Regions from separate parts of the Homo sapiens genome. Here all the other regions are linked to region 3. The links come from fine-mapping of genetic effects on gene expression. Tissue or cell type: subcutaneous fat. Region 3 holds a variant in brackets; each other region holds the start of a gene. All regions are shown on one strand. Distances are from middle to middle.

Region 1 (2,500 bases), 32 kb after region 3:
CACAGAGAGGCTTACAGAAAACGATTCTTGTGAATTGGCTTGCAGTAATAATTCAATACCTGCCAGCTATTCTTATTCCACATCCAAGCCCTTTCGCCTGCTGCTGGGTGAAAACACATGTCAGTGTTTCCTGACGGTTTCCACAAAGAAGATTCCAAAATTACAACCTGCCAGTCTGAAGAATCTCCAAAACATCCCGCACGCATCCTGGAGGCGCGGGCTTGGGGATGGGACTGCCCGCCCGGGTCCTGAACAGGATGCGTGCGCGCAGGCACACACACACCAGCCAGCCTGTGTGTGCGGCCGGAGTCCGGTGCGGTCCCGGGTGAGCAGCGCGTGGCTGGTGGGCGGGGCAGAGCCATTGTTCGCAGGCGTACCGAGTCCCCCGCGCTCGCCCGGGAGGGAGGCGGGGCTTCCCGCGTCCCCCAAGCTCCAGATCCTGGGGTGGCTGCCACGTCTCCCTGCCACGCGCCTGGGGGGACGGAAGACGGGACGGAGATGTTAGTGGTGGGCGCCCCCCGAGGGTTCACCACTGTTTCCTGAGAAACTTCCCCAGTGCCCACCCACCCGTTCTCCGTGTGCCCGAGGGCCGGTCCTGGGCTAGGCTCCGCGCCCCAGCCCCAAACCGGGTCCCCAGCCCCTTCCAGAGAGAAAGCTCCCGACGCGGGATGCCGGGCAGAGGCCCAGCGGCGGGTGGAAGAGAAGCTGAGAAGGAGAAACAGAGGGGAGGGGGAGCGAGGAGCTGGCGGCAGAGGGAACAGCAGATTGCGCCGAGCCAATGGCAACGGCAGGACGAGGTGGCACCAAATTCCCTTCGGCCAATGACGAGCCGGAGTTTACAGAAGCCTCATTAGCATTTCCCCAGAGGCAGGGGCAGGGGCAGAGGCCGGGTGGTGTGGTGTCGGTGTCGGCAGCATCCCCGGCGCCCTGCTGCGGTCGCCGCGAGCCTCGGCCTCTGTCTCCTCCCCCTCCCGCCCTTACCTCCACGCGGGACCGCCCGCGCCAGTCAACTCCTCGCACTTTGCCCCTGCTTGGCAGCGGATAAAAGGGGGCTGAGGAAATACCGGACACGGTCACCCGTTGCCAGCTCTAGCCTTTAAATTCCCGGCTCGGGGACCTCCACGCACCGCGGCTAGCGCCGACAACCAGCTAGCGTGCAAGGCGCCGCGGCTCAGCGCGTACCGGCGGGCTTCGAAACCGCAGTCCTCCGGCGACCCCGAACTCCGCTCCGGAGCCTCAGCCCCCTGGAAAGTGATCCCGGCATCCGAGAGCCAAGATGCCGGCCCACTTGCTGCAGGACGATGTGAGTTTCCCAGCCTGGCCCCGTACCGCCGGGTCGCAGGCGCGGGCTGGGCTTCCAGGGGACGGGTTGGTGGCAGAAGAGAGGGGAGAGCTCCGCGGAGGACTTGGTCATCTTTTTCGAGTTGTGCTGCCTTCCGTGAGTTGGGAATGTGGATTGTAATTTGGGGACTTGAGTCTCCAACTTTAGTTTCTTAAGCTTTAAAGAAAAATCCGGTCGTGCTGGTGCTTTTATGAATTATGCGGGTTTTCCTTTGTCTTCGTGGGGATGTGAGTGCTTTACTTCTCCTTCCTACTGCCGCCTCCCGATAGGTTTCGCGCCCCTCGTCCCCCTCGCCCTCCGCCCCTAATGTATCTGTACAGTTTCAGGGAACTTTTCTCCGTTGCGTCTCGGATACACCCTACCCTCAGTGAACTACGGCGCTGCGGAAGGGTCCGTACTGTCCACCCTTCCCCCAGCGTGATTAGAGAGCGGAGTGGCCCCAGCTGCCTCCACGTGTCTCTTCTCCTGACTCTCCTCTTCCTCCCCCTTCCAGATCTCTAGCTCCTATACCACCACCACCACCATTACAGCGCCTCCCTCCAGGGTCCTGCAGAATGGAGGAGATAAGTTGGAGACGATGCCCCTCTACTTGGAAGACGACATTCGCCCTGATATAAAAGATGATATATATGACCCCACCTACAAGGATAAGGAAGGCCCAAGCCCCAAGGTTGAATATGTCTGGAGAAACATCATCCTTATGTCTCTGCTACACTTGGGAGCCCTGTATGGGATCACTTTGATTCCTACCTGCAAGTTCTACACCTGGCTTTGGGGTAAGCAGCCTCCCTGTCCTCCTGACCTAGTCCTCCAGGTACTCACTGCTCTTTTAATAAGGTAGGATCTTACAGAGGACACCAGCCCCTCCCAGCCTCCCGGTTGGGGTTTTTCTCAGGCATTTCTCTTTGGTTGCTTCAGGCCTAGTGGGCTGGGAAGAACCTGGGGGTACTGAGATGCAGGACTGTCAATGCTGGGGGTTGAGAGCTTTGGAACCTTGTGCTTGTGGGCTTTGAAGTGTGCTGTGCTGGAGAGTCAGCTTTCCCTGAAAGAGCTTTTCTGTTTGAGTCATTTGCTTGGCTGCCTGTCCCACCCCTGCCAGCCACAAAAGAATCAAACCCCTCTACCTGGGAGGCATGGGAACATGGTACTAAACCATTG
Region 2 (2,500 bases), 29 kb before region 3:
CTCAAACTCCTGACCTCAAGTGATCCACCAGCCTCGGCCTCTGGGATTAAAGGCATGAGCCACCGCGCCCTGCCCATACTTCACTTTCTGATCCTCCTCCACACATAGGTCATGTGTCCACTTGGAAACGATCAAACACTAGTCATGTCCCAAAGGATGGGTTATCAAATCCTCAGACCAAACTAATAGGTCCCTAAATCTGCAGGTCACTCCCCGTTCCTCAATTTCATTTCTCTTTATCCCGGTAAACACATCTTCTGCTTTAGCCAAACACACTGCTTGCACATACCACCTCATTCGCTAGTTGTATCATCTCCCCCTTTTCCACCAATAATTCCCTTCACAACCCTGCTCAAAATACACTTTCCCCAAGGAAGCACTTCTTGATTACTGTTGCTGGATATGAACTCTTTTTTGTTATTGTTTTCTCATTAGTCTATGTTACAGAGGCCTGCAGAGTTGTATTTTCTTTCTCTCCCATTCATGGCCTCCCCCAACTTCCAACAGGCCTGTCTCAGGGCATGCAGGGTAGGAAGGGAGCTGCAGACTGATGCTGCTAACCATCTCCCAGGCCTCCTGGGCCAAACCGCACCCGAATCAACCCAGACCCCGCCTCACCCGTCAGTTCCCCAGTCAGGTAAGTGGCCATTTTGGAGAACATGTCCCGGCAGAGCTCAGTGATGTCAGCTTCAGCAGGCTCCTTTGCTTCCTCAGCTGTCTCCACGGCGGCATCGTCTGGGCCAAGGGAGAATGACTAAGTGTCCCGCCTACACCCGGTGCTAATCCAGCCAAAGCAGCCTGTTCCGACATCCCTCCACTTGCCTTCATTCCATCAAGTCGGCTCCATTCTCCATCTGCCATAATTTCAAGTCCTTCACTGCGTCCCTGCCCATCTGACACATCAACTCGCCTCCCTCGCACCGCCCCTCGCCCATACCCGGCACCCCCGCTCATCCTGGCACCATCCCAGTCACCCTGACAGGACAAACACTCGCGCGCAGCGACAAGTGCACTCCTCTCACCAGCCCGTTCCTGCCAGGTGAGCCACCACACACTCAACCTCGCCCACCCGAGACGGAGCCCCAGGCCCCCCACCGGACGCTTCCTCCCCATCCATTCCGGGTACCTCGGGCGGGCTCATCACTCCGGGTCGCCAGTACGCCCTCGGCTGCCGCCGCCATAGCGGACCCCGCGCTGTTTCCGGGCCGGGGTGCTGCGCATGCGCACTGGGTGTGCCCCGCCCACCCGGCCGGCCCTGCAGTCCTGCGCCTAGCGGTCCAGTCCAGCCTCAGGTCTATGACACAGCAAAGGGCGATTCCGGAGCCGAAATTGAAGCTACGCCAGGCTGTTGTGAATTGATCCACTGCCAACAGTCGCGACGTCTGGGACTGAGGGCGAGCTCATCCCTACAGTCACACCCTGGAGGGATCACTCATCTTGTACCACTCACGACCCGTCTGGGAATAGTCAACCCTGTTTGTGGCCTGCTGACCAAAACCACTGAAGACGGATTGCCCGCTCTCCTGACACTCCGCACTGGAGTTAGTCATCAAAAGATTGCTCAGGGAATCCAAAGTTTTACAGGTTGTCTCGTCCACACTTTGGGAAACCTTCAGGCATTGATCCCTGGTCCTAAATACTGTCCCTCCCAATGTCCTGAGTTAACACCAACTCACTGGCCCCTATTTCTTAAACTGCAGGCAGGCATCTACTTCTCTTCAGTTGATACAGCCTTCCTTGAAGAAAGCTTAGACTGTAACTTTTTTAGGGCTGAGGATACACTCTGGTTATCTTAATTGCATTTAAGCTGTTTCACAAGCCTCCTAGGTGTACAGAGTACTTAATGGGATGGGAGAACAGGAGTGAGTGAAAGAGATGGATGAGAAGAAGTGACTGGGGAGCAATTGAAGGTGCAAAATGAGGAGGGATAAAGGCCACAGAAGAAGGGATAGGAGATATTCAGCAGGCCTCAGGCAGGCTCCTGGACACCCAAAATCTTGGTAGTTTCTTTTCTTATCCCTGGTTATCCTCCCTCTGCACCCTCTCACCCCACCCCGATGCCAGTACATACACACACACGCCAGCTACCCCTTATCCCCAGCCCTCCTACCCTGACTGTCTCCACCCTGAGGACTGAGTCTCACTTGTCACCTGTCCCCACTTTTCCTATGGTGCAACCATAGTAGCCACTATTTCAAGCCATTCCTGCGAGCCAGAAGTTCTTTTTTTTGAAACAGAGTCTCGCTCTGTCACCCAGGCTGGAGTACAGTAACGTGATCTCGGCTCAGCTCACTGCAACCTCCACCTCCCGAGTTCAAACGATTCTCATGCCTCAGCCTCCCAAGTAGCTGGGATAACAGGCACGCGCCACCACACCTGGCTAATTTGTTTGTATTTTTATTAAAGACAGGATTTCAGCATTTTGCCCAGGCTTGTCTGGAACTTCTGGCCTCAAGTGATCCACCCAACATAGCCTCCCAAAGTGCTGGGATTACAAGCG
Region 3 (2,500 bases):
TCCTATACTACATTTATCACAATCAGCGGACGTTCCACCTCACAGACGGCATTGCTGTTGACTTTACACATCCTTCTAGTGTAAACCAACAGAAGCTTCTTTATCTAAAATTCATGTATATTTATATATGTCTAGAAAACAATTGAAATGGGCCGGGTGCGCTGGCTAGCCTGTAATCCCAGCACTTTGGGAGGCTGAGGTGGGTGGGGATCACCCAAGGTCAGGAGTTCAAGACCAGCCTGGCCAACATGGTGAAACCCCATCTCTACTAAAAATACAAAAATTAGCCAGGCGTGTTGGTGTGAGCCTGTAGTCTCAGCTACTCCAGAGGCTAAGGCAGAAAAGAAAGAAAGAAAGAAAGAAGGAAGGAAGGAAGGAAGGAAGGAAGGAAGGAAGGAAGGAAGGAAGGAAGGGAAGGGAAGGGAAGGGAAGGGAAGGGAAGGGAAGGGAAGGGAAGGGAAGGGAAGGGAAGGGAAGGGAAGGGAAGGGAAGGGAAGGGAAGGGAAGGGAAGGGAAGAGAAAACAGTTGAAATGATTATATACCAAACTAGGAACAGTGATTACTGAGAGGGATTTTTTATTTTGTTTTATTTTATTTTACTTTAAGTTCTGGGGTACATGTGCAGAACGTGCAGGTTTGTTACATAGGTATACATGTGCCACGGTGGTTTGCTGCACCTATCAACCCGTCATCTAGGTTTTAAGCCCAGGTTTGTCACATAGGTATACATGTGCCATGGTGGTTTGCTGCACCTATCGACTCATCATCTAGGTTTTAAGACCTGCACGCATTAGATATTTGTCCTAATCCTCTCCCTCCCCTTGCCCCCTACCCCGTGACAGGCCTGGGTGTGTGTTGTTCCCCTCCCTGTGTCCATGTATTCTCGTTGTTCAACTTCCACTTATGAGTGAGAGCATGCGATGTTTGGTTTTCTGTTCCTGTGTTAGTTTGCTGAGAATGAAGAGGGATTTTCACATTCTCTATGTTATTTGACTTTTAAAAAACAAGGACTATGTATTAGGTAAAAATTTAATAAATATATTACCAGTCTGATTTTCTTTGTAGGGGAAAGGGGGTAGAATTATGTTGTAATAGAATGAGAAGAAATGCTGGTTTAC[G/A]CCTTTTTCCTCTTACTTGCCCCTTGAGACTCTGACTATGGCAAAACTCTTGCATATTCATAGCCTGAGGCCTTAGTTGGCTGGCGCTACCTCCTCCATCCCCTGCCTCCTCCAGGCTGACAGCCAGCACTATTAAAACTAACAGGCAAGCAAGCAAATGGCAATGACTTTAGGCCTCCCTGGCAATGACTTAAAAACAGTTAAAAACAGTTTTAACACTGTTAAAATAAGCAGGCAAGCAAATGGCGATGACTTTGGGCTTCCCCAGACACGAATGGTACCTGTCTCTGGGACCTTCAAGATTTCCCAGCTCTCCCTGACCACTTTGTCTCCCACTTCTTACCATGGTCCCAGTGCACCCTCCACTGTAGCGCTCATCACATTCTATGTCACTGTTTGTTTACATGTCAGCCTTCCTTACTCCTTGAAGGCAGAAGATGTGTCTCGGGTATTTCTTTTGTTTTTTTTGAGACGGAGTCTTGCTTTTGTTGCCCAGGCTGGTGTGCAATGGCACGATCTCAGCTCATTGCAAACTCTGCCTCCCAGGTTCAAGCAATTCTCCTGCCTCAGCCTCCGGAGTAGCTAGGATTACCGGCATGCGCCACCACGCCTGGCTAATTTTGTATTTTTAGTAGAGATGGGGTTTCTCCATGTTGGTCAAGCTGGTCTCGAACTCCTGACCTCAGGTGATCTGCCTGCCTCGGCCTCCCAAAATTCTGAGCCACAGGTGTGAGCCATCTTGCCCAGCCTTGTCTCAGGTATTTCAAAACCCTCAGCACTTGGCCTAGGGCCTGGCACATAGTAAGACTTCATAAATGTTTGAATGAATGAATGTGTGACTATCCAGGATCTCAAACTTAGTTTCAGCATTTTGCTAATAAGCTCTCTTTGTCTCATCTGTTCTTTTCCTCCATGCTATGAAATAATCTAATTTGACCAGCTTAGACTCAGTCTCTGAGCCAGTGGTTTACACACATTTTGTTCTCAGAACCCCTTTGCAACTTCAATATTTTGAGGACTACAAACAGTTTTCATTTATTTGGGTTATATCTATCAATCATTACCTTATTAAAAGTTAAAACTGGCCAGACACAGTGATTCATGCCTGTAATCTCAGCACTTTGGGAAGTCAAGGCAGGTGCATAGCTTGAGCTCAGGAGTTCGAGTCCAGCCTGGGTAACATGGTAAAACCCCATCTCTACCAAAAATACAAAAAATTAGCTGGGTGTGGTGGCACCTGCCTGTAGTCCCAGCTACCTGGGAGGCTGAGGTGGGAGGATCCCTTGAGCCTGGGAGGCAGTGGCTGCAGTGAGCCAAGATCGCCCCACTGCACTGCAGCCTGGGTGACAGAGCTGAGATTCCATCTCAAAAAAATAAAAAT

Which allele goes with the higher level. Alleles are on the strand shown, and positions count from the first base shown. SD is a standard deviation of normalised expression in the study named. Not every link is listed here.
With allele G in place of A in region 3, the expression in subcutaneous fat of the gene that starts at base 1,005 in region 1 is higher (small effect, 0.28 SD a copy in GTEx).

What was found. PIP is the estimated chance that this variant, and not a neighbour inherited with it, causes the effect.
Region 1: SCD starts here. The variant in region 3 is fine-mapped to the expression of SCD in subcutaneous fat (GTEx, PIP above 0.99). The same link has a PIP of 0.9 or more in visceral fat.
Region 2: BLOC1S2 starts here. The variant in region 3 is fine-mapped to the expression of BLOC1S2 in subcutaneous fat (GTEx, PIP above 0.99).

The regions. Positions count from the first base shown.
Region 1 is chr10:100,346,229-100,348,728 of GRCh38, forward strand. SCD (stearoyl-CoA desaturase) reads left to right here and starts at 1,005. Exons shown (of 6, transcript NM_005063.5): 1 at 1,005-1,303; 2 at 1,836-2,118. The coding sequence starts at 1,277. RefSeq lists silencers at 270-649, 850-899 and enhancers at 440-1,031, 680-749, 1,130-1,369.
Region 2 is chr10:100,285,479-100,287,978 of GRCh38, forward strand. It overlaps BLOC1S2 (biogenesis of lysosomal organelles complex 1 subunit 2), which reads right to left and starts at 1,202. Exons shown (of 5, transcript NM_173809.5): 1 at 1,127-1,202; 2 at 619-735. The coding sequence starts at 1,181. RefSeq lists enhancers at 436-943, 529-828 and a silencer at 1,119-1,318.
Region 3 is chr10:100,314,603-100,317,102 of GRCh38, forward strand. The region is part of intron 2 of PKD2L1 (polycystin 2 like 1, transient receptor potential cation channel); the gene reads right to left. Among named protein-coding and RNA genes, the nearest start is that of PKD2L1, 14 kb to the right of the region's middle. The variant G/A (reference allele first, on the strand shown) is at 1,120.